2 separate regions of the Homo sapiens genome follow, and region 1 is linked to region 2. A link means that fine-mapping ties the variant in region 2 to the plasma level of a protein whose gene starts in the linked region. Region 2 holds a variant in brackets. A gene starts in the other region. All regions are shown on their reverse strands.

Evidence for each region. PIP is the chance, under the fine-mapping model, that this variant and not a neighbour inherited with it causes the effect. The UK Biobank Pharma Proteomics Project read protein levels with antibody pairs (Olink). The fine-mapping took linkage between variants from a reference panel, not from the people measured, so its PIPs are less certain.
Region 1: GSR starts here. The variant in region 2 is fine-mapped to the plasma level of the GSR protein (UK Biobank, PIP above 0.99).

What each region holds. Positions count from the first base shown.
Region 1 is chr8:30,725,151-30,728,018 of GRCh38, reverse strand. It overlaps GSR (glutathione-disulfide reductase), which reads left to right and starts at 173. Exons shown (of 13, transcript NM_000637.5): 1 at 173-489. The coding sequence starts at 184. RefSeq lists silencers at 1-2, 73-512 and an enhancer at 588-1,275.
Region 2 is chr12:7,380,511-7,383,425 of GRCh38, reverse strand. All of the region lies in intron 8 of CD163L1 (CD163 molecule like 1), which reads left to right. Among named protein-coding and RNA genes, the nearest start is that of CD163L1, 62 kb to the left of the region's middle. The variant AT/T (reference allele first, on the strand shown) is at 1,463.

The sequences.
Region 1 (2,868 bases), not on the chromosome of region 2:
GGCTCCGCCACCGGGGCGGGGAACTGGGAGGCGGCCCCGCCTCTGGGCATCCTCCTGGGTCTTGCCTAGCGGCGGGCGCATGCTTAGTCACCGTGAGGCTGCGCTTGCCCGGGGCCCGCGCCCCCCTACCCCGGGGACCGCCCCCGGGCCGCCCGCCCCACTTGGCGCGCCACTTCCGCGTGCATGGCCCTGCTGCCCCGAGCCCTGAGCGCCGGCGCGGGACCGAGCTGGCGGCGGGCGGCGCGCGCCTTCCGAGGCTTCCTGCTGCTTCTGCCCGAGCCCGCGGCCCTCACGCGCGCCCTCTCCCGTGCCATGGCCTGCAGGCAGGAGCCGCAGCCGCAGGGCCCGCCGCCCGCTGCTGGCGCCGTGGCCTCCTATGACTACCTGGTGATCGGGGGCGGCTCGGGCGGGCTGGCCAGCGCGCGCAGGGCGGCCGAGCTGGGTGCCAGGGCCGCCGTGGTGGAGAGCCACAAGCTGGGTGGCACTTGCGTGAGTACCGCCGGTTTGTTCGGGCGGGGGGCGCCTCTTTGTCTCGGTCTTTCGGGGGACAGCCTGTGCTCGTTCCTATGGCGATCCTGTCCCCCGGCGCTGGGCTTTCCTCTTTTCCACCCCCGCAACTCCCCATTCCGAAGCCAGGAACCCAGCAGGTGGAGGAGAGAGAGGCGTCCGGGGGCTTCTCTGCGGCCCGCAAAGCCGAGCCAGCGTCTGCTTCCGCACGGATGCGATATTGACCAGGGCCGGGGCGGGTTAGATTAACCTTCCTCCATCCTCACTTGTCCAAGTGGGAGAGGATTGGATTCTGTTCTTGACCGCGTGAAACACAAAACTGCATCTGGGAACATTGCTGGTGGCCTGTGTGTAGGGACGAGGGTGACGGTGCCATAGATCCTGGTTCTTGAAAAATGTAGATCCTGGTTCTCCCGTTTCAAGGGCAGAATGATTTATAGCGGTTGTTGTCAACCTTGGCTACACATTCGAATCACCTGAGGGTGCCTGGATTCCCGACTTAATTGGTCTGAGGTGCACTTGGGCTTTGGGATGTTTCCCGACTTAATTGGTCTGAAGTGCAGCCTGGGCTTTGGGATTTTCGGGTGATCTGAATTGCAGCCAAGGCGACCTTGAGTAGGTGAGTTCTCAGAGCTTTTGTTTTGTCTTGGTTTTATGTGGATTGCAAAACTAAAAACAGAGGGATGTAAATCCTGAGATTTACAAAATTCATAATTTTTGAAAATAAGGGTTTTTGTTTGTGTTTGTTTTTTGAGACAGGGTCTTGCCCTGTCACCTAGGCTAGAGTGCAGTGGCCATCATAGCTCACTGCAGCCTCGAACTCCCGGGCTCAAGGGATCCTCTCACCTTGGCCTCCTGAGTAGCTGGAACTACAGGGGGCTAATCACCACGCCTAGTTAATTATTATTATTTTTTGTAGAGATGGGGGTCTCGCTATGTTGCCCTTGCTGATTTCAACCTCTTGGACTCAACCGATCTTCCCGCCTCAGCCTCCCAAAGTGCTGGGATTACAAGCCTGAGCCACTGCACTCATTCTAAAAATAAATGTTGTTTCCAAGTTATTGGTGTGCCCGCCCTTTTCTATCACAAGATTTGGGTGTTGACGATTAAAATGCTGTATCCAAGAGGAACCTGGGATTTGGGATAGGTTCTCTAAATTCCTTTGGAGATGAATATTTAAATTATGTCAAATTGGGAGCTCTTTAAGGACAGGGATGGGCTTCTGTGTTTGTGTGTCTCTTATCACCTTAAAATCCCTTGCTCAATAAGCACTTGTGCAATGAATGAAACTAAAAATGGACAGTTATGAAAAGGTTGACTTCATTGTTCAGTGCCTTGGAGATGAACATGGAGATGAAGAGAAAGGAAAAATCTCTGTTAATTATCAACTTGCACTTTGACACCATAGTCCAGACAGAAGGTTAGAAATCTGTCTCTCCAGAAGGCAGATTGTGGGGTGCCACTAAGTGCCCCCCTCCCACACCTCATGAGAGTACTTGATCACTTCTCACTTCTGTTCTGCTCTCCACATTTTCTCTGTCTTCCTCTTTCTCTACTTATGTTATAATGTGCTTCAGAGGTTCACCCACTTTACCTTCCTGTTATGAATTCTTTTTTTTTTTTTTTTTTTGAGAGGGAGTCTCACTCTGTCACCCAGGCTGGAGTACAGTGGTGCAATCTGGGCTCACTGCAACCTCTGCCTCCCAGGTTCAAGCAGTTCTCCCGTCTCAGCCTCTCGAGTAGCTGGGAATGCAGGTGCATGCCACCATGCCCGGCTAGTTTTTGTACTTTTAATAGAGATGGGGTTTTGCCATGTTGGCCAGGCTGGTCTCAAACTCCTGACCTCTGGTAATCCACCCACCTTGGCCTCCCAAAGTGCTTGGATTACAAGCATGAGCCACCACACCCAGCTAATTTTTTATTTTTAAAATGTATTTATCTATTTTTTTTTCGATATGGAGTCTTGCTCTGTCACCCAGGCTGGAGTGCAGTGGTGCAATCTCGGCTCACTGCAACCTCCGCCTCCTGGGTTCAAGCAACTCTCCTGCCTCGGCCTCCCAAATTGCTGAGATTACAGGTGCCACTACACCCAGCTAACTTTTGTATTTTTAGTAGAGCCAGGCTGGTCTTGAACTCCTGACCTTGTGATCCGCTCACCTCAGCCTCCCAAAGTGCTGGGATTACAGGCGTGAGCCACCACGCCTGGCCTGTTTTTATTTTATTTATTGTTTTTTAGAAACAGGGTTTTGCCATGTTGCCCAAACTGGTCTCTTATGCCTGTGCTTAAGCAGTCGGCCTGCCTTGGCCTCCCAAAATGCTGGGATTACAGGCATCAGCCACCACTCCTGTCCCATTTTTTGT
Region 2 (2,915 bases):
CTAGGTAACATGACTGGTGTCACCAATAGCAGTAGTGGTGTCAGGCCAACTGTCAGGTTCCCAGCCGGTATACACTGGTGCTAGCAGTGCTGGGCAGGCAATTCTCCAGGCCCCCAGGTGGCACATGTAGGTGGGTGCTGGAGGTAGTGGTGGCACCCAGCAGTGCAGGTCTGTCCTCAAGGCTACTGATGTTGCACACAGGGACAGACTATGGTGAGTGGAATAGGGCAATTTCCAGACCTTTGGGTGGCATGCTTAGGTGGTAGCAGGTGGGGCAAACCTCCATGTAGGTCCTTGTATGGCATCCTGGCAAGCCATTTTCAGGCTCACTGAAGGCTCATGAAAGTGCACAGTGTCCCTGCTGCTGCGAGGAAGTGGGGTTGCTATCAGTGATAGTGACCCCAGACAGGTGGCTCTCAGGCTCTGGGGAGATGCTTCAGCTCTCTTTATCATGGGGGAACACTCCTCTGTGAACTACCCATTTCCCAGTACATCAGACACTGTGTGGAATAGATGGCTGGGGACCTAGACACACTGCCAGTCCAGCCAGCATGGCACCACTGCAGCCCTCCAGATGGATAAGGGAGGTTATCAGTGGGGCTCTAGACATGTAGAGATGTAGGGCTTACTGGGGCCCAGGACAGGATGCAATCTTGTGGGAGCTGGACTCTCAAAATGGTGCCATGCTGGAGTTACCTGGGTCTTGGGGTTGGGGATTGGGATGTAGGACCCAGCACAAACTCCCCCTCTGGAACAACGCTATTGTGCAAACTCTAGGCAGCTCCCTGTACTAGTCTCAGAGCCCACAGAAGCTGAGGGGCTCTCCCATGGCTAGGATTGCAAGGGCCCACAGTGGGAATGTGGACTGCTAGGAATCTCTCATTTATTCTTTTTCTACAGTGGGGATCCATACCAGGCTTCCAGTCAATCCTAGCCAGACAATTGCTTCACTTCTTTCTCTCTCTGTGCCTCAGAAGGATCTGTTCCCTATCACTTCCCTGCTGGATTCCAGTGTTCTATCTTAGACACTATTCGTTGTGAAATTATCTACTTGCTGTTTTGATCGTTTTTGGTGGTGAGTGTTGGGTGCCTCTAGTAGCCGTCTTGAAGCCTCCCCCTTGAGCTATTCTCTTTTAAGGGAAAGTTCTTCTCTCCATAATCATGAATATCAATGTGTCTTTCAATAAGAGAGTTGAGGATTCCTGAACACGGGACCCAACTCCAATCCATAGAAACTACCCACACCTTTCTTCTCTGTCCTTGTATCTGTATTGTAAACTACAGACTTTCTTATTGGTAATAATTGTTTTACATATTGAGAATTATATATATATCTCTATGTGTGTATATATATATTTAAAATAATTATATATATAAAACAATTATATATAAACAATTCTATATAAAACCATTATATATAAATATATAATTATGTATATAAAACAATTACATATAAATATAT[AT/T]TTTTTTAATTCAGAAAAACCTAAAAGTCAATATGATGTCACCTTTTTATGCTGAATCACCTACAGCAACTGTTTTTCCACCTAAGACTCTCTCTCAGAGTGGAATATGTTGCTACAAAGCAGTGAAATATGTTTTTCCCTTATATTTAGAGTAGTTCATTTAATGAAGAAAGTTCATCTGTTTCTAGACACCTTTTCAGGGAATCTCAATTTTGATAGAGATTCCTACAAGATATATATGTTTATTCTCCCCACCCTCCCCACCACCACACACAAAATTATAGCTCTCTAAACGTCAGTATCTAAAATAAACCCCATTTAAAAAAATTTCTTTTTACTTTTATGGTAAAGTTGCTAAGACTGATCTACCACCCTCACATGATTATTGTTTTGAAACTCCTGCCAATTACAAACAGATCTTGACTCATGTTTCACAAACCCTGTCACTGAGCTCCAAAGACACAGAGTAACAAATAGGCTTAAAATGGAAATACATTACAACTCTATTTTTCTGCTGAATGGGAGTTTTATTTAGAGAATCATCTCATATCTACACAAGATTATATCAAAATAACCAATGTAGTAAAATTTCATTCAGCTGTTTTATAAGTGGCAGGAAGTGGGACTGAAGTGATAGGAAAGGACAGACTTTCCAGGTCCTCTAGACCACGTTAATTATATTTTTCTTCTTCTCAAGGCCAATAGGAAGTAACTTGGTCAGGTTTGATCTGGTCAAAGTCAGAGTTGATTTTCTGACATGTCAGATCTGTCAACATTAGGCAGTTAATAAACCTATTAATATAATTTAGTATATAAAGTAGAAAAATAGTATGATATCACATAGACATTTAATAATGTGAATTTTTATTTTTAACTAAAACAATAGAAAAGAAGCTGATACCATTTATAGTTTTTAATTAGATAAAGAAGTATTACATTGTTATATAATTAGATATATTCTCAAATTAGTAGGCAATATTATTTGTGTTTCACAGACTATGCCACAGCACACTCAAAGCTACCAAACTGCCCTAAAAAGATAAAGTAACCTTTCTAGAATGAGATTCATTTCATTTTATGTCAATACTGCTAAAAATTTCCTTCAAAAGCTGACTCTTTCAATTAGGCTCAGAATTAATTTCTGATTTAATTCTTCGTTTCCTCTTTTTTAAAAAGTTTTTTATTTCCATAGGTTTTTAGGGAACAGATGGTAATAGTTACATGAGTAAGTTCTTTAGTTTTGATTTGTGAGATTTTGATGCACTCATCACCCAAGCAGTATACACTGAACCCAATTTGTAGTCTTTTCTTCCTCAAACCCCTCGTACCCTTTCCCCTGAGTCCTCAAAGTCCATTGTATTATTCTTATGTCTTTGCATCGTCATAGCTTAGCCCCCCACTTATGAGTGAGAACATACAATATTTGGTTTTCCATTCCTGAGTTACTTCACT